4 linked regions of the Homo sapiens genome follow. The protein of the gene in region 3 interacts with the protein of the main gene of each other region in a biochemical or structural test. Each region holds a gene or a part of one and is shown on either strand. Other genes may lie near its edges. The genes, in order: GORAB, RIC1, RAB6A and ERC1.

What was found.
Region 1: the proteins of RAB6A (region 3) and GORAB form a complex in vitro, tested with the Homo sapiens proteins (one study listed by BioGRID).
Region 2: the proteins of RAB6A (region 3) and RIC1 form a complex in vitro, tested with the Homo sapiens proteins (one study listed by IntAct).
Region 4: the proteins of RAB6A (region 3) and ERC1 form a complex in vitro, tested with the Homo sapiens proteins (one study listed by BioGRID).

Annotation. Positions count from the first base shown.
Region 1 is NC_000001.11:170,528,106-170,535,192, reverse strand, and holds the start of GORAB (RAB6-interacting golgin), read right to left. Parts: upstream 3,028-7,087; 5' UTR 2,970-3,027; coding exon 2,909-2,969; intron 2,746-2,908; exon of another isoform or gene 2,584-2,745; intron 1,730-2,583; exon of another isoform or gene 1,542-1,729; intron 1-1,541.
Region 2 is NC_000009.12:5,632,096-5,639,124, forward strand, and holds part of RIC1 (guanine nucleotide exchange factor subunit RIC1), read left to right. Parts: intron 1-7,029. UniProt on the Homo sapiens protein: The RIC1-RGP1 complex acts as a guanine nucleotide exchange factor (GEF), which activates RAB6A by exchanging bound GDP for free GTP, and may thereby be required for efficient fusion of endosome-derived vesicles with the Golgi compartment.
Region 3 is NC_000011.10:73,675,131-73,681,096, reverse strand, and holds the end of RAB6A (ras-related protein Rab-6A), read left to right. Parts: intron 1-1,376; coding exon 1,377-1,443; intron 1,444-3,134; coding exon 3,135-3,199; 3' UTR 3,200-5,459; downstream 5,460-5,966. UniProt on the Homo sapiens protein: The small GTPases Rab are key regulators of intracellular membrane trafficking, from the formation of transport vesicles to their fusion with membranes.
Region 4 is NC_000012.12:986,728-994,222, forward strand, and holds the start of ERC1 (ELKS/Rab6-interacting/CAST family member 1), read left to right. Parts: upstream 1-4,495; 5' UTR 4,496-4,595; exon of another isoform or gene 4,596-4,760; intron 4,761-4,822; exon of another isoform or gene 4,823-4,892; intron 4,893-7,495. UniProt on the Homo sapiens protein: Regulatory subunit of the IKK complex. Probably recruits IkappaBalpha/NFKBIA to the complex. May be involved in the organization of the cytomatrix at the nerve terminals active zone (CAZ) which regulates neurotransmitter release.

The sequences.
Region 1 (7,087 bases), on a different chromosome or scaffold from region 3:
TTATATGACTTGCTTTTGGTAAATAAAAGTAGGAGTGTCACATGTCATTTACTGGTGAAAGGATTTAATTGCCAATGTTCAATTTTCAATCTTCTTTTCTTCCTACTATGGTAAACTCCTACAAGACAGCACCAAAAAACGGAGTGACTGTGCAACACAGTCACCTGCCAAACCCACATTAAACATGAAACGAGTGAAAACCAAATCTTTATTTTAAACAATTGACTTATTAGGGCTATTTGTTACTTTAGCTTAACTTGTCTTAACCTGATTTCATAAATACCAATACCTCTGAAATTCCCTCTCCCTGATCACATTCCCACGCCTCCCCACTATATACAATCATACGTCACTTAACAAAGGGATACATTCTAAGAAATGTGTTGTAAGGCAATTTTGTCCTTGCGCAAACATCAGAGAGTGTATTTACACAAACCTAGATGGTACAGCCTACTATATACTTAGGCTATATGGTACAGCCTTTTGCTCCTAAGCTCCAAACCTGTACAGTATGTCACTATACTGAAGACTGTAGGCAACTGTAACAACGGTATTTGTGTATCTAAACATAGAAAAAGCATAGTAAAAACAGGGTATTATAATATTACCAGACCATCACCATATATGTGGTCCGCTGCTAACTGAAATACTGTTATTGAGTGCGTGACTGTATATATTATATATACAGCTAGCTGATCCTTGGTATATGAGGATAATTGGTTCCAGGATCCCCATGTATACCAAAATCTGTGCATACTCAAGTCCCACAGTTGGCGCTGTGAAGACCACATACACCAAAAGTTGGCCCTCCATATACTCAGGTTTTGCATCCCCCAAATACTGTATTTTTTAAATGCACATTTGTGTATAAGTGAACCATCACAGTTCAAACTTGTGTTGTTCAAGGGCCAAGTGTAACTACATATACTGTATTAACAAACATTTTAATGCATGTGGCTACAGTTAATACTAATATATTCCCACCAGCTGTACAGTAGCCCGCTAGATGAGTATACCACAATTTATTTATCCATTCCCTTGTTAATGGACACTTTGGTTGTTTCCAACTTCTTAATATTATAAACAAGACTATTAACAACTTTCTTGACTATGTTCCTCAATGCCCATACAGGGGTCTCCAGAGTACTACTGTCCTTATTTTTCCTGGCAACCAACTCCATCTTCCTAAATTATTCAATAAATTTTTAAAGATAGAGAACAGCTAGAAATGGCTTTAAAATTAAAGGGCCAAATCCTCTAATTTTACAAATAAGGAATCCAAGGAGAAAAGATTTAGAGGAAGAGCTGGAAGTTCTATATGCCAATCACTGTGTTTAGCTACGGGTATACAAGGAGGTTAAGATATTTTCCGTCCTCGAGGTGGTCACGGACTAGCGATTTGGTTTCCACACTACAGTGGGCCTTGAAGTTCAGGTCCTCACCATCCTCTATCTACCCCCGGTTGCAAAGATATTTCAAAATATACTTCTACATAATGAATATGTTGTTTAATTTAGATTTTTATATTAAGTCATCTTTACCCTGGAAAATGCGCCTCTGCTAACACACAAACTTTGTGAAATCTTCCCAAGCTCCATCCAATCCCCGGCAGAGTGAGGTTCCTCTTGTCTCTGAAGCAAGTTCTTGCAATATCTACTATCACATAACTTTGTGGTTTGTCTCCTCATGAGTCTACTGGAGTCAGACCAGAGGCCAGGGCACTTGTACCCTGTATATCAAAGTATGTGAATGGATGTTGAAAACACAAAGCAAAAGAATTTGAGTATATCAAGCAACACAGAGTCAGTTAACTACATAGCTTAGCCTAACCTTTATGATAGAGTTTTTAAAGTCCCCTGGACCAGTCAAAATGTCCCCAGTCGATATAATCTACATTGGCCCTATCTTACTAATTTACTTCTTTTCCCACTTGTCTGCCCTAGATTATTCTCATATTTATGCTAAAAATGCACAAGCTACCAGAGCAACATCCAATTTCCCCACAAACGCTAACAAAAGGTTTACTTCATTTGCTACCAAAATAAAGTATTTGAATTAAGGTACCAAGAGTGATGTACACTTCTTACAGAAATTGTGTGTACTACCACGATAACCATACAGATCACTGCGAAATTTCAACCACAAGCAAAGTGCAATTAATATTACTAAGTTTTCCACCAACAATCAGCAAACTTAATTCCTTCCACAACAACAAAAAAATTGTACAAGCCCATTCAATGATTACTCTATAAAGCCAGAGAGAGAAGCACAAGGTTAGCTTACTCCAAAGTCAGTAAGACTGTATGTATATAAACATATAAAGTCTTCACATCTACCCTCTCAAAGACCCTTTTGGTTTGCTGATTCTCAAAAATTGGGAAGTACTGCAAAAATCATCTGGCAACCAGAAGTGAATGCAACACTCCAGATGAATTGTGAAAAGTACCGAATTTTTGCCTTTATTCAGACGCCTGTGCTCCTTTTTTCCAACCATCTGCTTCTATAAATTCATCACAATTCTAATACGGTGTGCGCCCCTCCTCCTTCCCTTACCCTGACCCTAACCTTCCAACCGTTGATTCCTGCAGCAATCTTCCCTAAGGGAGACACCCCGGCTGTAGGCTCACTTCCTCTCCCAAGTCCCATTCCTTTCACAAGAGTCAAATCCCTACAGTGGATTCCTGGACCGTTTTTTCTAAAAGAAGATCCCAGTCCTCTGGCTTGCCCCTCCCGTCGTGACTCCCAGTAAGTCCTCCTCTGAAACCCCCTAATCCAGTCCACGTACTTACAGCGCCTTCCGCTAACACAAACGTAGCCGCTTCCACGCCCCCTTTCCCCGCCAAAGCTGCATCCCCGCCTCTTCCCCTTAAGACCCAAGAATTAAACCACTGTAAACCCATCTTGTAACCTTTAGTCTGCTTTAGTCTCCTCAGTTCCTCCTCAGAGAATCCTGCCCAACCTTGCGCCATCGGCCCGGGCCACCGGCACCCCCAAAAGTGCCCAAATCTCGCAGCCGCGACTGCCAACACTGCTGCCCAGCTCATCCGGGTTTTTCCCCGGCCGCGGCCAATCAGTGCATCGGGCTCCAAACACAAGGCCCTCTCTCCCCGGCCTCAGGGTCCGGCTTCCTTCCAGGCTGCCTTCAGCAGTGCCTGACAAACTGCCTAAGGAAACCTTGCCACGCAGACATTCGTTTCCTCTGGCTTACCTCTACTCTCTCTCTCTCTCATTGTTTCTCACTGTTGCTGGTTAATCGCTTCAGGAGCTAAGGGGGGAAATGGCGATGGGGATAAGGGTGGAGATAAACAGGTATTTGGGAAGGAGCAACAAGTCGGTGGCGGAAACGGGAGATCTAAGTGCCTTTGGGGTCCTGTACCTGTGGGGCGGGAGCGGTGCTCTCTGTGGCTCTTAGTGTGCCCTAAAATCCTTGTGTTTTGCTGGGAGTGTGCACAGCGCTGGAGGCCTCCTTCAGATTAACTCAGGAAATGATCAGATTTAGGATTTTGATGATGAAGAAACATTTAAAAGGGGTGGGGTATAATTGATGAAAAGGGAACAGGCATAACCAGGTCTCTCGCAGGCCGGAGCGGCTCTCAGATTTCTTTTGCTTTGGGTTGTTTCCTTTGTGAATAATTATAATATGTAACTTTCCTCTTAAGGGATTTCTTTTTCTTTTTTTCTTACTTTTTTTTTTTTTTTTTTTTGAGACATAGTTTCGCTCTTGTTGCACAAGCTGGAGTGCAATAGCACGATCTCGGCTCACTGCAACCTCCGCCTCCCGGGTTCAAGCGATTCTCCCGCCTCAGCCTCCCGAGTAGCTGGGATTACAGGCGCCGGCCACCACACCCGGCTAATTTTCTGTATTTTTAGTAGACACGGGGTTTCACCATGTTAGCCAGGCTGGTCTCGAACTCCTGACCTTAGGGTATCCGCCCGCCTCGGGCTTCCAAAGTGTTGGGATTACAAGCGTGAGCCACTGCGCCCGGCCGGGATTTCTTAGTCTCCCCTTTAAATCTGTTTTTCAGAGAAGACATTGTAAAACGTCGGTGCTGGGGGATGGGAAAGCATTTCTTAGGATCCTGCCTGGAATCCTAATACCGTAATTCGGGTTCTGCCTTGAACACTAACCTGAGATCCCATTTCCTCATTTGAAATATGGTTGCAAAGATTAAAAGATGCAAGCGTTGTCAAAATACACATAGATAAGGATGATTCAAGAGAGACCTAGTTATACTATTTTTCATGGTTCTCTTTCACTATTTTTGCAGTAAGAACAACAAAACACCTCATCTTGGCTTACATTTTAAAATACTTTGGCTTTAGTGTGTTGATATTTTTAAACAAAATGAAAGAAAGGAGTAAAGTACAAAATAAAACACGTCAAGAAAAGTTGAAATGAGTACTTCAGATTTAGTAAGTGATAAAAAGTGAAGGATGTTTGGAATTTCCCATGTAAATCCGAGCTTTTAAAACTTAAAGTGGTTTCTGAAATTTGGGGATGCTGCAGATGCGTCATTTTAAATATGTACTCATTTTTTATAATATTAAACAATCAAAATGCCTGGAGGAGACAGTTACCACCAGTTTCTGAATATAGACTGAATATAGACTACGTATATTCAAGTTATAGATTATCTAGCTCCAAAGTAGTAGATGGGGATCAGTGGCAATCTGGTAGTTAATTCAGTTTCCTAGTTGCAGGCAACCGCCATCTAGTTCATCTAATAACAGTAAACCACCTTGTGTGCCCCATGTTGAATTTTATACATAAATGTTCTTTAGTTCACTCTGGGGGAATTTCAAAAATTATCCGTAATCTTAATAAAGATGTAAATTAGGATATTTTAAAAGGTTTTGCATTGGCCCTTAATGAGAACCAAAGCGAAAGTGACACGTGGTAAAAGATAATAAAATCCGTCTGTATAAAAGTTATAATTTCCAGTTTGCTAGGTTCTAAATCTCCTGTTTGTTGTTTCTGTTGGCTCTCCCTCATGGTGGCTAGTTTCTTCAAATGTTGTGTAATATTTAAGTGGGAATTTATCTTCAAAGTTCTTTGTTCTGCAGAAGTCTTCTCTTCCTTGAGTTAAGAAAGTGTCTCTACAGATTGGTTTTATTGGTCCTAAAGTTTCAGTTGTTTTAATCCAGATTTAAGGTAATTTTTTCAGCTTCTACTGTAAATTTGGTTCTTGGGTCCCACCCCCATATATGATATAGGACTCAGGTCTCAGTATTTTTTAATTGCCTTTATATGTATACAAATTATACACAACTTTATTTCAACAATCTTGTCTTCAAATATGTGAAGGAATCCCAATCCCTAGGATCTATATTTACATAGAATCCCCCTTTCTATATCTCTTTAGCTTTCTTTTAAGTTCTATGATGTATTTTTTGATTATGTAAATAAAAACATGTTATATGTTTTTATGTAAACAAAAAACATAATAATATTACTCACAGATAGCAAGCCTCCTTACTGCTTTTCCAAAGCAACAGTCTTAAGTTTTTGTGTTTTTGTTTTTTTTTTAAAGACAGGGTCTCACCCTGTCACGTAGGCTGGAGTGCAGTGGCATGATCTTAGCTCACTGCAACCTCTGTCTCCAGGACTCAAGCGATCCTTCCATGTCTTTGTCTCCAGAGTAGCTGGGGCTATAGGTGCCCACTACCATGCATGGATAATTTTTATATTTTTTTGTGGAGACGAGGTTTGCCATGTTGCTCAGGCTGCTCTCCAACTCCTGAGCTCAAGCGGTCTGCCCAACTGGGCCTCCCACTTGCTGGGATCACAGGCATGAGCCACTGTGCCTGGAGTTTTTCTAACCCTCTGTGATCATATGGTCTGTCTTTTCTAGACTCAGCTTTATTTCAGCAATCTTGTCTTCAAATTATGTGTAGGAATCCCAATCCCCAGGACCTATATCTAGGTAGAGGCCCCCCCTTTCAACATCTTCTTTGCTTTCTTTTAGGCTCTGTGATATATATTTTTTGTTTACATAAATAAGAACATGTTATACAGTATTTAGCATCTTTATGTGTTTATAGAAGGGGACCACCTATGACAATTTAGACAATATCTCTGGTTGATTCTCCATCAGAGCGCCTAGAATATAAAAATGAAGACTAATTGTGTCTGTAGCCTGGTCAAAACAGTAAAATGCTTTCCCAGCACACTTTGAATAAAATCCCAGTTCCTGCATGTTCCTACATGATCTCACCCCTGTCTACCTCTCTTATGTGATCATTAGGCTGTCTTTCCCTTTACTCTGCACTCACTATAATCCAGCCAAAATTGGCATTCGTTGGGGTTTTGGAATACACCAGACTCTCTTTTCTACTATCCTCTACTACCTACCCAGAGCTTTCCCAAATGCTGTCCTTTAATTATTATCTTTCCCTTGTCTGGCTGGTTCTTCCTGCTTCTTTACGCTTTGGCCTTAAATATTCACATAGACGTTCTATGACCACCCTATCTAAGTAGCACCCGCCCACTTCTATGTTTTTTATAACTTTTTACAGCACTAATTAAAAGTTCTCATCTCTTCTGTCTACAGACTGAGCTCCTTGCTTTACCAGCATTTATCCTCGAATGTAAAGTGACCCATCCAATTCCCTTTTTTATACTGCCAGTTGCCTCTCTTCCTTTCCTGTCCCTGCTCCTTTGCCTGACTCTTCATTTCTACCTACGACTTGGGGATATAGGACTGCCTTTCTAACCCTTATGCCTTCCTTACTCAGGATCTGTAAGTAAAAATCTTTGAACTTATTTCCTATTGTGGTTGTGTATTGAATTTGTGCCTTCCATCTGGAGAACATGGGGCTACCCCAGACCAAGTTTTGCCCTGGAGAAACACAGGTTGGACTCCCAGTGCCAGAGCAGTGGTCAGAAAGGCATTGAGTGGATGTGGGTCAGACAAGAGCCACAAGGGTGTCTGCCAGTATAAAAGAGATCACCCTGTGAGGGACCCCCTGGTTGTGGGTCAGACAACTAGGATGTCTACCAGGTAAAAGAAGTATCCCATGAAAGGCACTCTGTAAACACCCATATCTAGTTCCCCTTCATTTCCTGTAAGGTCAGGGTTGCTGTGGT
Region 2 (7,029 bases), on a different chromosome or scaffold from region 3:
TGAGGGCATTTGAAGGCAGGGAGACATGCTCGTAGAGATGATAAAACAAGATTTGCTTACCTGAAATTTTGTTAGGGCTCACTTAGTAAATCAGGCTCTCTTAGGAGTGATATATTTTAAAAAGAGACAACTAGCCTTGTGGAAGGGACAGTCGTTTAGTAGTCTAAGCTGGTTGTTTCAATGTTCAAAAGAATTGTGGAAATTGTATGTGTACAGTGATAATTCATAAGACTGAATCTCTATTAAAATCTCTAACTGTACATTATATGGGTCTTCTAATGAACTTTTATGTACTACTTATACCTACTGTCCTCTATTCTAAGTAGGTATTCGGAATTCCACTGTTTAGACTCATATCTCTTCAGAATTATTTCCTACCCCAAATTTGAGAAATACAGTATAGTGTTGTTTATGAACAAAAGAGCCTCTAGATAGTTACTTAGCTTTTTTATATTGGAGCCCCAATATTATATTTTGGAGCCCCCCAAATGGTGTTAAAAAAAGGCTCAGTATGTGTAGGCTAGATTGGGGTGGTAGAGGTAGAACTTGACTGGGGGCAGTTGGTACATTTCTGCTAAGGTTATTGTAAAAGGACTAGTTTCAGCTTTGAGGATGAAACTGTTGCATAAGGTAGGTTATGATTTATGATTGACGTAGGTGTAGTGTGAGATGAATTACATTTTGTACTGTACTGAGGGCCCAGAATTATTCCTTTAATATACTAACTGTGACTATGAAAGTCTATATATGTGAACATCAGAATGGTATCTTTGAATTTAGCCATTCTAAATTAGATGTATAGACATTCTCGTTTTTCAGGTCACCGACTTTAAACATTTAAATTAGCTTCAGAAGTATTTTTGAACATCAACTGTAAAAGACAGATGTGTATAAAAGGGATGAAGAGACATGTTATATGTTAGTGTGTTAGATGTTAGTGTGTTAATATAAATCTTGTGAGATATCACTGTTGTAGGTAGCTAATAAAAAGCTGAAATGGGCAAATAATTACTAGGCTTATAAAATAAATTATATGTCGTTTAGTAATCCTGAGCAAAAACTTAGTTCCCATTGGTATGTGCTAATCATGGAAAAAAACAATGATATGTCAAAAGAACCAAGCTTTGGATCAGGTATGTGATTAACTGTGTTGACCTCAGGAAGACCATTTTATTTGTATTTTCCCAGCATTCCCATTTCTCACCCTTTTAACTCTATTACTTTCTCCAGAGAGCCTTCTTTATAAATTCACTGCTCTGAAGTCTTCTAGGGTTCACTGTTGATGAAAGAATGGAGTTCAAACTCCTTAGTTTGATATCACAGACACTCCCTTCTTGGAATGCTCTCTTGCCTCATTTCTGCCTGTCAGAGTATTATCTATCCTTTAACTGCTGTTGAAATCCTTTCTTTATGAGTCATTCTTTACCTACCGTAACCATAAGTGTTCATTTTTCTGATGAACTACTGCTTCCCCACTACTGCCAGCTTTGTTGAGGTATAATTGACAAATAAAAATTGTATATATTTAAGGTGTGCTGTGCGATACTTAGATCTACCCTGTGAGTTGATAATCACAATCAGTCTAATTAACAGATCCACCATCTCACACAGCTCCCTCTTTTTTTGTATGTGGGATGAGAACACTTAAGACCTACTCTCTTAGCAAATTTCAAGTATACAATATATGTTAATTATGGAAATAAATGTCATTATTAACGATAGTTACTGGGCCATGCATTAGGTCCCCAGAACGTATTCATCTTATACCTGAAAATTTGTACCTTTGACTGAAATACTCCCATTTCACCCACCTCCCAGCCCCTGGTAATCATCGTTCTATTCTCTGTTCCTATGAATTTGACGTCTTTATATTCCATATATGAGATCATGAAGTTGTTTTTTGTCTTGCTTACTTAGTATACTGTCCTTAAGTTTTGTCCATGTTGTTGCAGATGGCAGGATTTCCTTGTTTTTTAAAGGCTGAATAATATTTTATGTGTGTATGTGTGTGTGTTACATTTTCTTTATCCATTCATCTATTGACAGACACTTAGGTTGTTTCTGTATCTTGGCTACTTTGAATAATGCTGCAATGAATATGAAAGTGCAGATATCTCTTTGAGATACTGATTTCAATTCCTTTGGATATATACCTAGAAGTAGGATTGTTGGATCATGTGGTAGTCCTGTTTTTAGTTTGAGGAACTTCTGTTTTCCATCATGACTGTACCATTTTGCAGTCCCGTCAATAGTGTACAGGGAGGGGATCCCTTTTCTCCACGTCTTTGCCGACCTTGTTATGATTTAACTTCTTGATAATAGATATCCTAACAGGTGTGAGGTATCTTATGGTTTTGATTTGCATCTCCCTGATGATTAGTGTATTGAGCACCTATTGGCCATTGGCTGTTTTTTGGTAAAACATCTGTTCAGATCTCTTGTCCATTTTTAAATTAGGTTATCTGTTTTGTTTTTTTCTCGGTACTGAGTTGTATGAGTTCCTTACATATCTTGAATATTAGCCCCCTTTTAGATGTATGGTTTGCAGATATTTTCTCCTATTCCATAGGTTGCTTTTTTATCTTGTTGATTGTTTTCTTTACTGTACAATAACTTAATTTCATGTAATCCTACTTGTTTATTTTTGCTTTTGTCACCTGTGCTTTCCATGTCATCCAAAATACCATCGTGAAAACAGATGTCAGGGTGTTTTTCCCCTGTTTTCTTCTAGGATTTGCATGGTTTCAGGTTTTACATTTAAGTCTTTGATCCTTCTTCTTATTTTAATTTTTGTGGGTACATAGTAGATCTGTGTATTTGTGGGGTATATGGGATATTTTGATACAGGACTATAGTCACCCTGTTGTACTATCAAATACTAGATTTTATTCATCATCATCACCATTATTATTTTGAGACAGGGTCTCACTCTGTCACTCTGGAGTACAGAGTCATGATCATGGCTTACTGCAGCCTCGACCTCTTGGGCTCAAGCAATTCTCCCACCTTAGCATCCTGAGTAGCTGGGAGTACAGATGCATGCCACCATGCCTAGTTAATTTTTTGAAGAGATGTGGTCTTGCTGTGTTGCCCAGGCCGGTCTCAGACTCCTGGACACAAGTGATCTGCCCATCTCAGCCTCCTAAAGTGCTAGGATTACAAGCATGGGCCACCACACCCAGTCCTTATTCATTTTTTCTATTTTTTGTACCCATTAACCATCCTTCCTTCCCCCTCCGTCTTTAATCCTTCTTGAGTTGATAGTGTAAGATAAGGGTCCAGTTTCCTTCCTTAGCATGTGGATATCCAGTTTTTCTAACACTATGGTGTTGAAAAGTCAGTGTTGCAAGATGTGTTTTCTCCATTCTTAGCACTTTGTGAAAGATTGACTATATATGCATGCGTGGTTTTATTTCTGGACTCCATTCTGTTGCATTGGTCTATGTATCTCTTTTTATGTCAGTACCATACTATTTTGATTACTATAGCTTTGTAATATACTTTGAAATCAGGTTGATATGGTTTGGCTCTATTTCCCCACCCAAATTTCATCTCTAATCGTAATCCTCATAATCCCCATGTATGGAGGGCAGGACCTGGTAGGGGGTCATTAGATCATAGCGGGAGTTTTCCTCATGCTGTTCTTGTGATAGTAAGTTCTCACGAGATCTGATGGTTTTATAAGTGTTTGACTGTTCCTTCTACACGCTCTGTCTCTCTCTTGCCTGCCAGCATGTAACAAGTGCCTGCTTCCCCTTCTGCCATGATTGTAAGTTTCCTGAGGCCTCACCAGCCATTATGGAACTGAATCTATTCAACCTTTCTTTATAAATTACCAAATCTCAGGGAAGTTTGTTATAGCAGTGTGAAAATGGACTAACACACAGGTAATGTGACACTTCCAGCTTTGTTGTTCTTTCTCAAGATGGCCTTGGCTATTCATGGGCTATTGTGGTTTTGTATAAATTTTAGGATTGTTTTTCTGTTTATGTGAAAATATCATTGAAATTCTGATAGAGATTGCATTGAATCCATAGATTGGTTTGGATAGTAGGGACATTTTAACAATATTAATTCTTCCAATCCATGAACATAAGATATCCAGCCATTTATTTGTACCTTCTTCAGTTTATTTCATCAGCATTTTATGGTGTTTAGTGGCGGTTAAATGTATTCTAAGTATTTAGTTTTTTGGAGCTACCATAAATGGTATTGTTTTCTTTTTCTTTTTCTGTTTTTTTTAGACAAAGTCTCGCTCTTGTCACCGAGGCTGGAGTGCAATGGAGCGATCTCAACTCACTGCAGCCTCTGCCTCCTGGGTTCAAGCAATTCTCCTGCCCCAGCCTCCTGAGTAGCTGGGATTACAGGTGCCTGCCACCATACCCGGCTAATTTTTGTATTTTTAGTAGAGACAGGGTTTCACCATGTTGGCCAGGCTGGTATCGATTCCTGACCTCAGTTGATCTGCCTGCCTCAGCCTCCCAAAGTGCTGGGATTATAGGTGTGAGCCACCACTCCCAGCCATGTTTTCTTAATTTATTTTTTAGATACTCATTGTTCTTGTGTAGAAACACAACTTATTCTTGTATATTGATTTTATATCTTGCAACTTTACTAAATTCATTTCTTAGTTCTAAATTTTTTGGTGGTTTTTAGGTTTTTCTAAATATAAGATTATGTCATCTTCAGAGACAATTTTGCTTTTTCCTTTGAACTACTGCTTTATATCGTAAGTTTTGCACTTATGCTTTATTTCTCCAGCTAGATTATAAGTTTCTGGAGCACAGAAACTATCTTAATTTGTATTATCTATAGTGCCTTGTACAAGGAAGATGTTTAATAAACATTTTTAATATTAATGAATTTAAGGTATTTGTCATACGTGTGGCACAGCAATTTTTTTTTAAGTTTTAGTGTTTTGATTTTTGTGAGAACACAGTAGGTATATATTTATGATTTTTTTGTTTGTTTGTTTGTTTTTGAGACAGGGTTTCACTTCAGTTGCCCAGGTTGGAGTGCAGTGGCACAATCTCAGCTCACTGCAATCTCTGCCTACTGGGCTCAAGCAGCTGTCCTGCTTCAGCCTCCCAAGTAGCTGGGACTACAGGTGTGCCCCACTGCACTTGGCTAATTTTTTTTTTTCTGTAATTTTTTATAGAGATGGGATTTCACCATGTTGCCCACGCTGGTCTTGAACTCCTGAGCTCAAGTGATCCATCCACCTCGGGCTCCCAAAGTGCTGGGATTACAGGCATGAGCCACTATACCCAGCCATGAGATATTTTGATACTAGCGTGCAATTTGTAACAATCAGTTCATGAAAAATAGGGTATTCATCCCCTCAAGCATTTAACCTTCATGTTCCAAACAATCCATATGTACTCATAGTTATTTTAAAATATACAATTAAATTATTTTGACTGTAGTCACCCTGTTGTGCTATCAAATACTAGGTCATACTCATTCTCTTTTTTTGTACCCATTAGCCGTTCCCACCTCCCTTCCTATCCCCCCAGTTACCTTTCTCAGCCTCTGGTAATCATCTTTCCACTCTTTATCACCATTAGTTCAATTGTTTTGATTTGTAGATCCCACAAATAAGTGAGAACATGCGATGTTTGTCTCTCTATGCCTTGCTTATTGCACTTAACATAATGACCTCTAGTTCCATCCATGTTGTTGTAAATGACCGGATCTCATTTTTTTTGTAACTGAATAGTACTCCATTATGTGCAAGTACCATGTTTTCTTTATCCATCCATCTGTTGATGGACACTTCCAGTACTGTGTTGAATAACAATAGTGAAGGTGGGCATCTTTGTCGTGTTCCAGATCTTAGAGGAAAGGCTTTCGGTTTTTACATACTCAGTATGATACTAGCTATGGGTCTGTTATATATGGCTTTTATTATGTTGAGGTATGTTCCTTCTATACCCAGTTTTTTTAGGGTTTTTATGAAGGGATGTTGAATTTTTATGAAATGCTTTTTCAGCATCAGTTGAAATGATCATATAGTTTTGGTCCTTCATTCTGTTGATATGATGTATCACATTGATTGATTTGCATATGTTGAACCATCCTTGCATCCCTGGAATAAATACCACTTGTTCATGATGAATGATCTTTTTAATATATTGTTGAATCTCATTAGCTTGTATTTTGTTGAGGGTTTTCACATCAGTGTTCATCAGAAATATTGACCTGTAGTTTTCTTTATTGATGTGTCTTTGTCTGGGTTTGGTATGAGGGTAATCCTGGCCTCATAGAATGAGTTTAGAAGTACTCCCTCCTCCTGTATTTTTCAGAACAGTTTCAGTAGTATTGGTGTTCTTCTTTAAATGTTTGTTGGAATTGAGCAGTGAAACCACTAGGTCTTGGGCTTTTCTTTACTGGGAGACTTTTTATTACAGGTTCAATCTCACTGTTGTTAGTCTGTTCAGGTTTTGAATTTCTTCATGATTCAATCTTGGTAGGTTGTATGTGCTAGGGATTTATCCATTTCCTCTAGATTTTCCAGTTTATTGGCATATAGTTGCTCATAGTAGTTTGTGATGATCGTTTGAATTTTTGCGGTATCAATTGTAATATCTCCTTTCTTATCTCTGATTTTATTTATTTTGGTTTTCTCTTTTAAGGTTTGTCAATTTTGTTTATCTTTTCTAAAAAGCAACTTTATGTTTCTTTGGTCTTTTGCATTATTTTCTTCATTTCAAGTTAATTTATTTCTGCTCCATCTTTATTATTTCTGTTACTAATTTTGGGTTGTTTGCTCTTGCTTTTCTTGTTGTTTAAGAGGCATCATTAGGTTATTTATTTGAAGTTTTTCTTCTTGTTTTCTGAGACAGGGTCTCTCTTTATTCTCCAGGCTAGAGTGCAGTGGTGCAATCTCGTCTCACTGTAGCCTCAACCTCCCAAGTTCATGTGATCCTCCCACCTCAGCCCCCTAAATAGTTGGGACTACAGTTGCATGCCACCGTGCCCAGCTAATTTTTGTAGAGACAGGATTTCACCATGTTTCCCAGGCTGTTC
Region 3 (5,966 bases):
ACAGCACATATGCATTTAATTTATGGGTTTACACTGTGTGCTTAATTAAAAGATAAATAATTGAAATAATCAGGCAGTTTCACTGGCTGTTGTACCCAGTGGGTGTATGCCTAAGATTGGGACAATATAAGAAGTATAAACTGTTGTTCCAGTATCTGTTCTCATATGCCTCTCAAAAGTAAACATCTCACCAGGCTTGAGTGCGTTTCTCCTGTTGAAGATAACTTTTCATAGCTTCATACCTCAAACACAAGCCAGCCACTCCCACTGACACTCATTCCAATGATGGAAGAAAAGCCAGCTGTGTTGGACTTGAGGGGTGGTGTATTAATCTCTAACATAGTGCTTTTCTAATGAACGATGAAGGATAATTTTGACTGGACTGAGTTTCACAATATATTATACACTGACTTCAGAACCTAACTCTCCCCCCCACACCCCCGCCAAGAAGAAGTCTTGCTGTGTCGCCCAGGCTGGAATGCAGTGGCGTGATCTTGGCTCACTGCAACCTCCGCCTCCCAGGTTCAAGTGATTCTCCTGCCTCAGTCTCCCAAGTAGCTGGGATTACAGGCATGTGCCACCACACCCAGCTCATTTTTGTATTTTCTGTAGAGACAGGGTTTCACCATGTCCAGGCTGGTCTTGAACTCCTGACCTCGTGATCCACACCCCTTGGCCTCCCAAAGTGCTGGGATTACAGGCGTGAGCCACCGCGTCCAGCCCTGAACCTCACTCTTTATATGAAAGATAGGAATGCTACTATACAGTTTTGTTAAATGAATGATCTGTCCTTTTTCTGCGTTTCTGTAATACTTTATTATTCAAATGACATTTTTGCTGCTTATTTCATAGCTGTTTACTTTTGTCTTATCCCACCAGTTAAAAAAACAGGAATCATGTCTTTATACCTCTTTGTATTTGGTATATTGCTTTTTATATAATACTCGTTTATAGAATGAATAGACATTTTATTTTATTATTTATTTATTTATTTATTTAAAGACAGAGTCTCGCCCTGTTGCCCGGGCTGGAGTGCAGTGGCGTGATCTCAGCTCCCTGCAGCCTCCACTTCCTGAGCTGAAGCAGTCCTCCAGGTTCAGCCTCTCCAGTACCTAGGACTATAGGCGTGTGCCACCACGCCTGGCTAATTTTTGTGTTTTTTTTTGTAGAGACAGAGTTTCACCATGTTGCCCAAGCTGGTCTCAAACTCCTGACCTCAAGTGATCTGCCCACCTCGGGTGGGTCCCAAAGTGCTGGGATTACAGGTGTGAGCCACTGCGCCCAGCATTAGACAGCTCACTGTACAGTGATCATAAACCTCAGTACCCTTTGCTAAATGTTCCCTCTCAGTTATCACTTTTCTCTCTTTCCCACAGCTCTTTCGACGTGTAGCAGCAGCTTTGCCGGGAATGGAAAGCACACAGGACAGAAGCAGAGAAGATAGTATCCTTTTTATTTCATTGGAAATTTTTCATTATTAACACTAGTCTTTAGAGCCCTGCTTGCTTGGCTAAAGAATATTGTGCCATTGCCTTTTACAACCAGGAACTGATGACTTAAAGGCATAGAAATTCATTTGTTTTCTATAGCAAATGAGGTCTGGTTATCCAAGTGCACCCTTTGCAGCCTGCTTCTCGTTGTTAATCAGTGAGAGGTTTTGTGTTTGTTTGCTTGCTTTTAAATGAGCAGGAAACTCTTAGAATCCCTGTGTCCTTGCCTCTTCATTTTGAGTCCCATTGACTCTAGGCTTTTTCCTCATGGAATATCAAATTTTCATTTCTTTTTCTAACACTTGAGCTTTCTACTTGACACAGGCAAGAAATAGAGTGGAGCTTTATTGTAGCCTCTGCTTTCAGAAACAGGACATAATATTAGTTCATTTCCAAGGATTGGGACATCTAATATTAGTTAATTCTAAGGATTTTTAATTTGATGTTTTCAGTGTTTCATATTCACCTTCTAGTGTATTTCCATATGCAGGCATTTTTATTAAGCCATATAGTTTGTAGCACTTTGTATTCAGCTCTTCCCACTTGTAAATGTTATATGTTTTCATAAAAAACATAAAACAGGCCGGGCGCGGTGGCTTATGCCTGTAATCCCAGCACTTTGGGAGGCCAAGGCAGGTGGATCACCTGAGGTCGGGAGTTCAAGACCAGCCTGACCAACATGGAGAAACCTTGTCTCTACTAAAAATAAAAAAATTACCTGGGCGTGATAGTGCACGCCTGTAATCCCAGCTACTAAGGAGGTTGAGGCAGGAGAATTGCTTGAACCCAGGAGGCAGAGGTTGCAGTGAGCCGAGATCACGCCATTGCACTCCAGCCTGGGCAACAGGATCGAAACTCCATTCCCCCCCCAAAAAAAAAAACACAACAACAACATAAAACATAATATGTTTCAAAAACAAAACAACAACAACAACAAAAAATGTTCTATTGAGTTGAAGTATGTCCCCGCGCCCACCGCCGTTTTTTTTTGAGATGGAGTCTCATTCTGTCGCCCAGGCTGGAGTGCAGCAGCGCAATCTCAGCTCACCACAACCTCTGCCTCCTGAATTCAAGTGATTCTCCTGCCTCAGCCTCCCAAGTAGCTGGGAATACAGGCATGAGCCACCATGCCCAGCTAATTTTTATATTTTTAGTAGAGATGGGGTTTCGCCATGTTGGCCAGGCTGGTCTTGAACTCCTGACCTCAGGTGTTCGGCCTGCCTCAACCTCCCAAAGTGTTGGGATTACAGGCATGAGCCACGGCACCCGGCCTGAAGTCCCATTATTTACTAAATGTTTCCTCTGCTGTTGGAACTATCTTGTAGGCTATTTTCAGATTTATATTATAGATGATTCTATGAGGAACATCATCTTCATATCACTTCTTGCCACTGTAGAATAAGTTCCTTAGGATAGATACCCATAAATAGAGCTTGTACCTCATTCTGACCCTTGTTGCATATAGTAGATATAAACAAGTTTATTCCATTTGAGCACCTTATATGGTGAGGCGGCTATGTAGAAAATAGTGAGTGTGTAGGCTCTGAAGACAGATAGGAATATAAGGGCCATCCCAGAAATGCTAGTGTTTGGAAGAATTGAAATTGTACTTTCCCATTTATGGCTTCTTAACTTTTGTTTCAGTGATTGACATAAAACTGGAAAAGCCTCAGGAGCAACCAGTCAGTGAAGGAGGCTGTTCCTGCTAATCTCCCATGTCATCTTCAACCTTCTTCAGAAGCTCACTGCTTTGGCCCCCTTACTCTTTCATTGACTGCAGTGTGAATATTGGCTTGAACCTTTTCCCTTCAGTAATAACGTATTGCAATTCATCATTGCTGCCTGTCTCGTGGAGATGATCTATTAGCTTCACAAGCACAACAAAAGTCAGTGTCTTCATTATTTATATTTTACAAAAAGCCAAAATATTTCAGCATATTCCAGTGATAACTTTAAAAATTAGATACATTTTCTTAACATTTTTTTCTTTTTTAATGTTATGATAATGTACTTCAAAATGATGGAAATCTCAACAGTATGAGTATGGCTTGGTTAACGAGCGGTATGTTCACAGCCTACTTTATCTCTCCTTGCTTTTCTCACCTCTCACTTACCCCCATTCCCTATTACCCTATTCTTACCTAGCCTCCCCCGACTTCCTCAAAACAAACAAGAGATGGCAAAGCAGCAGTTCTACCAAGCCCATTGGAATTATCCTTTAATTTTACAGATACCACTTGCTGTAGGCTACGGACCAAGATGTCCAAAATTATTCTTGAGCACTGATATAAATTACGGTCTTCTTTGAGGTCAAAATTCAGCCATCATGGTAGGCAGTGCTTGAATGAGAAAAGGCTCCTGGTGCATCTTCAAAATGAGTCCTAAAGAACATACTGAGTACTTAGAAGTAGAAGAACATAAGATGTATTTCTGACTAAAACAAATGGCTCTTTCACATGTGCTTTATTAGACTCTGGGAGAGAAAATTAACCAAGTGCTTCAGAACAGGTTTTTAGTATTTAATTCTTCACGGTAAGAAAATGAAGTTCTAATGAACTGTTTCTCCCAAGGTTTTAAAATTGTCAAGAGTTATTCTGTTTGTTTAAAAAATAAGAAACCTCTTTAAGCAATAGATTTTGCTTGGGTTTTCTTTTTTAAAAACATAATACTGTGCAGGCAAGGCACTGTAAAAGTTTTAATTCCTTCCAGAAGAACCAGTGGAAGAATTTAAATTTGGCGCTACGATCAAAACTACTGAATTAGTAGAAATAATGATGTCTAAAGCTTACCAACAAAAGAACCCTCAGCAGAATAACAAAAACTTTGCTCAGGACATTTGAGGTCAAATTGAAGACGGAAACCGGAAACCGTTTTCTTGTAAGCCCCTAGAGGCAGATCAGGTAAAGCATACATAGTAGAGGGAAAGGAGAGAATGGAAATAAAACTCAATATTATGCAGATTTATGCCTTATTTTTTAGCATTTTTTAAGGTTGGGTCTTTCAGGCTGGTTTTGGTTTGTATTAGATCTGTATAGTTTAATTAACTGGTGATTTAGTTTTATATTTAAGCTACAATTAATCTTTTTTCTTTGGTGATATTTATTTCTTTGCCTTTTTTTTTTTTAACAACTTTCAATCTTCAGATGTTTCGTTGAATCTATTTAGAGCTTCACCATGGCAATATGTATTTCCCTTAAAACACTGCAAACAAATATACTAGGAGTGTGCCCTTTTAATCTTTACTAGTTATTGTGAGATTGCTGTGTAAGCTAATAAACACATTTGTAAATACATTGTTTGCAGGACGAAAACTTCTGAGTTACAGCTCAGGAAAAGCCTGCTGAATTTATGTTGTAAGCATTACTTAACACAGTATAAAGATGAAAAGACAACAAAAATATCTTCATACTTCCTCATCCCCTCATTGGAACAAAACCTTAAACTGGGAGAACCTTAGTCCCCTCTCTTTCCTCTTCCTCCTCCACTTCCCACTTATTGTCACCTTGTAATATTCAGAGAGCACTTGGATTATGGATCTGAATAGAGAAATGCTTACAGATAATCATTAGCCCACATACCAGTAACTTATACTTAAAGATGGGATGGAGTTGTAAAGTGCTTTTATAATACAATATAATTGTTAAAGGCAAGGGTTGACTCTTTGTTTTATTTTGACATGGCATGTCCTGAAATAAATATTGATTCAATATGGCAGATGGGTCATATTCTTTATTTGGAAGAAGTTGTGACTTCTGACATGGGTGTGATTGTCTTCCTACACTGTTGCATTTGATTCTTTTTATGTATTTTTAAGAAAGTAACCAGTTATACTGCTTTTAATATTGATTGGTCTTTTTATTTGGCTTGGAGTTCTTCAAAGCATTGAAGTGTGTTCATAGTCCAGGTTTTTTTTTTAATAAACACAATTTTGCTGCCAAAAATATATAAATAAAACACGAAAGAAAACAATTATTGACCTGGTTTCCCATTCCTGCCAAGATGGTGAATTAGCATTTACTTCTCCCTCTCTGGGAAGACCTTTAAAGCAGACATGGACAGAATCCAGAAAAATAACAACAACAAATGTGAGGAACTCCTAGGGAGTCAAAGACTCTTTTTTTGATGGGGGTATTGTTGGGGGGTGGGGGAGAGGGGCTGCAACTTGAAAGATACATCCCCTGGTGGAGGCAGTAATAGGACATATTAAGAAAAGCATCTTAAGTTCTGCTTTTGCGTCCTCACTCCTAACTATACCTTTGCCTTGGGACAGGAGCCAGCAAACTGTGGCCCTCCCACCAAATGCAGCCTGGAACCAGTTTTAAAAATTAAGTTTTATTGGAACTCAGCCATACTTTCCCACTATAATGGCAGAGCTTAATAGCTGCCACAGACCTTATGGCCCTAAAACCCAAAAAACTGTTTACTATCTGGCCCTTTACAGAGAAAAGGGCAACCCCTGCCTTGGGACAACCATAG
Region 4 (7,495 bases), on a different chromosome or scaffold from region 3:
AAGCAGCATCTTCTAAGCTTTTTTTTTTTTTTTTTATCATAGTAACTGATTATTCTGTTTAATTCTCTCTTTTCCGGGCGTTTTCTCTCCCAGAACTCCTACCCTTCTGTTCCAATCTAACTAAGTTCCTGGGACTTCCCTTTACTGTTTTCCTGAATTGGATCTAGTGATTACTGGATGTTGTCAGATACCCTGATTTCTCCCTCATTTTGCTTGAGCACACATTTAAGTAACTCTTTTTTAAAATTTATTTTTATTTTTTGAGATGGAGTTTTGCTCACTGCCCAGGCTGGAGCGCAATGGCACAATCTCGGCTGACTGCAACCTCTGCCTCCCGGATTCAAGCAATTCTCCTGCCTCGGCCTCCTGAGTAGTTGGGATTACAGGTGCCCGCCATCATGCCTGGCTAATTTTTGTATTTTTAGTAGAGACGAGGTTTCACCATGTTGGCCAGGCTGGTCTCAAACTCCTGACATCGTGATCCACCCGCCTCAGCCTCTCAAAGTGCTGGGATTACAGGTGTGAGCCACCGTGCCCAGCCCGCCAGTTTGATTTTTGTCCTTTTATGGGCTCCTTTTTTTCCTCTTTGGAAACTTAGAATCTTCTTTATATTTAGAGTTCAAACATTTCACATGGTTGAATTTTTTTTTTCTTTTGGTTCTGCACTAGTGGATTCTTTCAGTTCTAGGAAATTGTCTTGCATTATTTTTTCAATAATTTTCTGTCCTTCATTAACTTTGTTTTCTCTTTTTCACATAATATTAGTCCTGTTGAACTAATTCTTTATCTTATTTTCTCTCACAATTTCCACCCCTTTGTATATTTATTGTTTTCTTTTTTTTTTTTTTCCTGAGACAGGATCTGGCTCTGTTGCCCAGGCTGGAGTGCAGTGGTGTTATTTCAGTTCACTGCAACCTCTGCCTCCTGGGCTTAAGCTATCCTCCCACCTCAGCCACCTGAGTAGCTGGGATTACAGGCATATGCCACCATACTTGACTTATTTTTGTATTTTTTTGTAGAAAAAGGGTTTTGCCATGTTGCCCAGGCTGGTCTTAAACTCCTGGGCTCAAACGATCTGCCTGCCTTGGCCTCCTAAAGTGTTGGGATTATAGGCGCAAGCCACTGCACCCGGCCCTATTTTCTTTTTTCTTTTTTGAAATAAGGTCTCTTGCTCTGTCACCCAGACTGGGGTGCAGCTTCCTAAAGTGTTGGGATTACAGGCGCGAGCCACTGCACCCAGCCCTATTTTCTTTTCTTTTTTGAAGTAAGGTATCTTGCTCTGTCACCCAGGCTGGGGTGCAGCACCACCATCCTGGCTCACTGCTCCGTTGACCTCCCAGGATGAGGTAATACTTACACCTCAGCCTCCTGAATAGCTAGGAACACAGGTGCGCATCACCATACCTGGCTAAGTTTTAAAACATTTTTAAAGAGATGGGGTCTCATTATGTTGCCCAGGCTTCTTCTATTTTCTTTAAAAGTTCAGTGACTTTATCTTTCAATATTTTAATTGAATTTATAATTTGGCAATTTATTTTAAATTTCAAGATCTATTTTTAAACCTTGGATTGTTACTTCATCTGAGTATCCTAGTATACTAATTAGGTTTTCCTTTCTAAATTCTCTGAAGTTTCTGTTTATCTGCCCCCACAGTCCATGTTGGAGACTTTTCTTAAATACCTAATAACACTTAGTTGTCTGTTCATACGTATGAGGCAGTTGGAATGCTGATGGGGAGTCTTGTGAACTTGGGAGGTGTCTTAGTCTATTTTATGTTGCTATAAAGGCATGCCTGCAGCTGGGTAATTTATAAAGAAAACGGGTTTGTTTAGCTCACAATTCTGCAGGCTGTACAGGAAGCAAGGCACTAGCATCTGCTCAGTTCTGGTGAGGGTTTTTGTGCTGCATCAAGACATGGCGGAGAAGGTCAAGGAAAAGTGTCTGTGCACATGCAAAGAGAAATCAAACCCGAGGTGAGTCCTGGCTTTACAACAAACCACTCTCCAAGGAACAAATCCATTCTCCTGATAACCAACATAGTTTCGCAAGTGTGAGAACTCACTACTGTAAGAATGACACCACGTCCTTCATGAAGAATCTGCCCCCATGACCCAAACACCTCCCATCAGGACCCACCTCCCAATACTATCACACTGGGAATCAAATTTCAACATGAGATTTGGTAGAGACAAAAAAACCATATCCAAACCATAGCAGGAAGTTCCTGCCAACTTGCCCAACTACACTTTAAAGTGGGTGGGTAGGAAACCAGCTATTGTGCTAGAATAAAGAATACTTTACTCTTAGGCCCTTCAATACTCAGTTAACCCAAATCTCCCCAGATTATCAGAGTGCTTAATTTTAGCCTGGATAAATGCCTAGATATTGTATCTGAGATATAGGGAGGGTTCTGCTCTTCCTTATATAGACCTTTATTTAGTCTCCCTGGTCTCAACTCTGCTTCTCACTCTTGCTCTGTCTGGTAGTTATCTCCAAATCTCCGTCTCCCTAAAGCACTTCTGGGCTGACAGGTCCCCTTCCTTTCTACAGCACCCTCTACACCCATTCTACATTATGCTTTTCTCCATTTTATTTTGTCAGACCACACTTACTTTTTGCATGTCAAATAAAAAAAAATTATCTTCCGATGTCCCCCTTCTCATTTTCTATTTTGTATCACTTTTATTTATCATCATTTTATGGGGTCTCAGGAAGAAGAGACAGTAAATACATGTGCTCGGTTAGCTAGCTTTAATCAAAAATCCTAAACGTAGGTTTTAAAAAAGATAACTGGAGCAGGGCAGGAAATAATATTTTTTGCCAGTGTGGTGGCAAAAAATAAAAAACAAAAATCTGAATCTGTGTTAGGACAGTATTTCCGTGTATAACATAGCGCTTAGCAACTTAATTCTCCAGATCCACATATTTTAAGGACATGATGTATCTCAGACACCTACTTCAAACCTCACTTTACAGTTAAGTAAGACCACAAGTAGAATGAATTGCCTGAGGCCACACAAGTAGACAGTGGGAGAATGAGAACAGAAATATCTATTGACTCCTAGTTGAATTTTCTCTTACCTTACCACACTGCTAGGGAGTAACAAGATGGGCAGATCACGAGTCAGATGAGAAAGGTCATGAAAAATAGTCAAAGGATGACTTTTCCTGGGTAAATAGCCGGATGTCCAAGAAATGAAAGGCTGGTCTGGCAGCAGCACATCGTCTAACAGTTGGTAGTCATATGTGGGAAGTACTGAAGGGGGAGATGACAGCAGGCCCAGAAACTGCAATGATCCAAGTGCATGTCGATCCTGGGAGGGAACAGTTAAGAGTCCGGGCAGGATGAAACAGTAGAAACTGGTGAGTGAATGAATGTGAAGGCTGAGGAGCGACTGCAATTTGTTAATGGGATTATGAGGCAGTATAAAGTGGTTAATTACGGTGGCGGAGGTAAGCAGGAGTAAAATGATGGCTTTTAACTCCTCTCAAGGACACCGAAAATTATTTTAATAAACACTGGAAGGCTGGGAATAAATATAATTCACACCATTCTTACTTTCTTGGTTTAGAGATAGCTTATCTACATCCTTAAATTAATGGCTGTAGCTACCCTCTGCATGGCTCCAAAAAAAAAACAAAAAACAAAAAACAAAACCAAAGCCGGCTGCGAGTCTGCACGAGAAAATCGGGTTGCACCAGGCCCCAGCCGCCCGCCGATTCGCTTAGCTGTCGGAGGCTAAATAAACAGCTCCCGAAGCAGCGTTTGGCACAGCGCAGGGTCGGAACGTGGACACTAATTTCCGCCCACGCTCCCCGCGTCCTGGCGGGATCACCACAGACACGACGTCCATTGCTGGGGTCCTCGGCGATGCCCGTGTGCGCAGCCCCGCGAGTCTCAGGTCAGAAGACCACTAATTTCGCGGCCGCGTTCCACGAAGCTAAGGGGCAAAAAACCAGCTTTCTTGGGACAAAGCGTCCCCCCAGCAGCCAGGGTCGATCCCGGCGCTGCTCCCGCGGCGCTTGGCTGCCCCGGGCGTAACGGGCCACGAGAAGTAGGGGGTGGGGCGCCGCTTAGGTTTGGGAAGACACGAAGCGGCTCCTCGGGCTTCCAGCGTCCACTTCCTACGGCAAGCAGGAGGAGACAAGCGCCACCCTGCGCTCGCGGAGCCGACCCCGGCTCTCCCCTCCCGTGGCCGCAGGGGTCGTGTGTGTGTGTGTGTGAGTGTGTGTGTGTGTGCAGGGACGCTCCGCGCCCATCACTCTGTTTCGGTGCTAATCGACCGCCGTGGCGCCGATTTCCCCCGCTTCCCAGTTCCTCACCCGCGTGCCCCGGAAGGCGCCCGGAGGCCCCCGGGCCGCCGCGTCACGCTCCCGGGAGGCTGAGGGAAAGGGAGGCAGCCGAGCCGGGAGCCCGGGGAGGCGCGCTGCGCCCCGCGGCGGGGCTGGGGGCGGGGCTAGGTGTCTCGCGCAGGGGGCGGGGCGCGGTGACGTCGCGGGCGCCTGGGCCGTGCTGTGGCGGCGGCGGCGGCGGTAGTGGCGGCGGCGGCGGTGCCTGGGCGGCAGCAGCAGCAGTAGCGGCAGCCCTGAGGACGGTGAGACGGCCGCGGCGGCGGCGACAGCGCGGAAGTCGCGCGGGACCCAGAGCTTCCCCCCTGTCGCTAGTGCTGAGGCTTTCGCCTTTCCTACCCAGCTTCTTGCTCACGGCCCGGGCTGGGCTGGGCAGGGCAACGCGCCCCCGGGGAGGGGCGGAGCTGTAGGTGAGGCTTCGCGACCCCCTCCCCCTCCTCGGCAGCCCGGGGGGTGGGGAGGGGCGGGCCCCACCCAGACCACCGGCGCCCACCCGCGGGCTCCACCCAGCCGGGCTCCGGGATCGGGCGGGAGCCGAGGCGGTAGATGTGGGGATCCTGGGGCGGGAGGTGGGGGAGTGGGGACTGGGGCTCTGGGCACTTGGGGAGCGGAGGGGGGGAGGCTTAGGACTAGTGAAGCCGCGGACGAGGTAGTGGGGAGACGGAGAAATTGGGGAGCCATGAGGTTGGGGTGCGGTCAGGGTGGATCTTTGGGTTAGGTGAGTGATGTAAAATGCTGAAGATGATTCTTTTCTTTTCGATGAAATGGTGAGATAAAAGATGAAGTGTATTTCAAAAGGACGATGAGCTGTGCATGTTGCCTTTGAGGCAGTTGCAGAACCTATTTTATTGCACTAGATCTCACGTTTCTACTTTAGGGTTCGATTCTTTTTCTTCTGGCGGGGTGGGTGGGGGGTCGGAGAGGGAAGAGAATCCCCTTACTTTGGCTCAGGTAAATTGTGAGCGTGGATGTATCTGAAAGTTTTACACCGAAGAAGAGGGAGATCTTCGGTTTAGACAACTTCGTTCCGGCAGCCACCATTTGGGTCGCATTACGCTTAGCTCCTTCAAGGTGGTGTCTTCCAGTTTTTTTTCCCCCCAATGCCTAAAAGATCTCTTTATACCACCCTTTTACAGGCTTTATCCTGGCCCCTTGAGAGAAGGCCCCAAACTCAGGTGGTTGCTTTGGAAGGCACATTGCTGAATAATAGTTGCAGGTGGTTGTGGTTGACTGCTTTGGGTGGATAAAGTGAACAATTGGAATAGTTCTGTTGGAGCTAATTATATGAAAAATGCTTAAATGTTTTAAAGTACAACCGTCTTTTATAGCGTGTTGCTTGCTCAGTACACCTTGACTTTTAGACATTTTGTGTTCAGTGCTAAATTGTTGAAATTTTATTTCTCATTTGCAGTTATGTTTCTTGCAGTCTTTATTAAAACACTTTAAAATGAAATGGAACTCTTTTTTTTTGGTAGGCTCCTCAATTTCTGAGAAATGTTCTTGGAGTCAAGTGCTTTAAAAACATTTTGGGGGCAGGTGTGTCACTTTGTATGGAAATATTAGAGTAAGCAGTGTTCAATGTTCTTCACATCACTCTTTCACAACTTAGCACTGTAAATCAGAATCTTCTTTTCTGGATTCTTGCTCCCTGTTAGATTACAGTATTCTCTGGCCCTACTTATCAGTTAGTGTCATTTAAGCTATTTCTTGTTCAGAAAACAGGTCCCATGATGGACATGTATTATGTAATGGATGGAAGTAGACATGGCTCTCAATAATTCATTTATGGAGGAAGAGAAGCTGTCAGAAAGTGGGATTTAAGCAGTGACTTTCCCAAGGCTTGCCTAGTTTATTTGGGAAAATAGCCAGAGAAGTGCTTTCTTGTAACCCAAAAGAGAAATATACAGATAAGAATTTCAGTAGTTGCAGATCGTTGCTTTTTCTAAGTGCCTACTTAATGAGCAGATTATTGTCTTCCAGCAAATACTTCTACTTTATAGAGAGGTATGGGAAACAGGACATAATAGGTATTAAGTGAGAAAGTGTGTGTTCCAATTTTTAATTATAAATAAAAGATTTAATTAACTGTATTCAGTTAATTCATTTGGTAAAGTGAACAGTTTTGACTTTGGATTAGTTAGAAGGAAAACAAAATTGACATATCTAGTTTTCGCTTTTAAATTATACATAGACTTAATTAATTGGGACAAATGTGAACTAAGATACTGGGTAAAACTTGTGTGTACTCCTAAAATGACATTTGCATGGCTGGTAGTAAGCTGTGATTCTTGTCCTTGTAGGAATGAAATCACATAATTTGGGGAAAGTCTTAAGGTAAAAGTAAGCTATTTCGTTTAGCATTTCTTGTGCCTGAAATTATGCCTACATTTTATTTTTCAAAAAATGTTGCTTGCTAGTCATTACTTGTGATATCCTTGTTGAGTCTACTGAGGTGTTTTTTTTCCTTCATTACCTGTGTCATAGATAAGTATGCCAGTCTGTTAATTCAACATTAATACTGCAAACTTAAAAGTGAAGGTTCTTGGCCGGGCGCCGTGGCTCATGCCTGTAATCCCAGCACTTTGGGAGGCCGAGGCAGGCGGATCATGAGGTCAGGAGTTCGAGACTAGCCTGGCCAACATGGTGAAACCCTGTCTCTACTAAAAATATAAGAATTAGCTGGGCGTGGTGGCACATGCCTGTAATCCCAGCTACTCAGGAGGCTGAGGCAGAAGAATTGCTTGAGCCTGGGAGGCAGAGGCTGCAGTGAGCCGAGATCATGCCACTGCACTCCAGTCTGGGCTACAGAGCGAGATTCCATCTCAAAAAATAAAAATAAAAATTGGCTGGGTGTGGTGGTGCACACCTGTAACCCCAGCTACTCAGGAAGCTGAGGCAGGAGAATTGCTTGAACCTGGGAGGTGGAGCTTGCAGTGAGCCGAGATTGCACCACTGCACTCCAGCCTGAGTCACGGCAAAACTCCGTCTCAAAAAAAAAAAAAAAAAAAAAAAAAAAAAGTGAAGGTTTTCATAGCAACAGCTGCTCGGTTTTACACTATGTTTACATTTAGAAGTATGAGAGTTGTTAAATGTGTATTTTACACATATTTCATCAGAAACATTAATGGAAAAAGATCAAGAAATG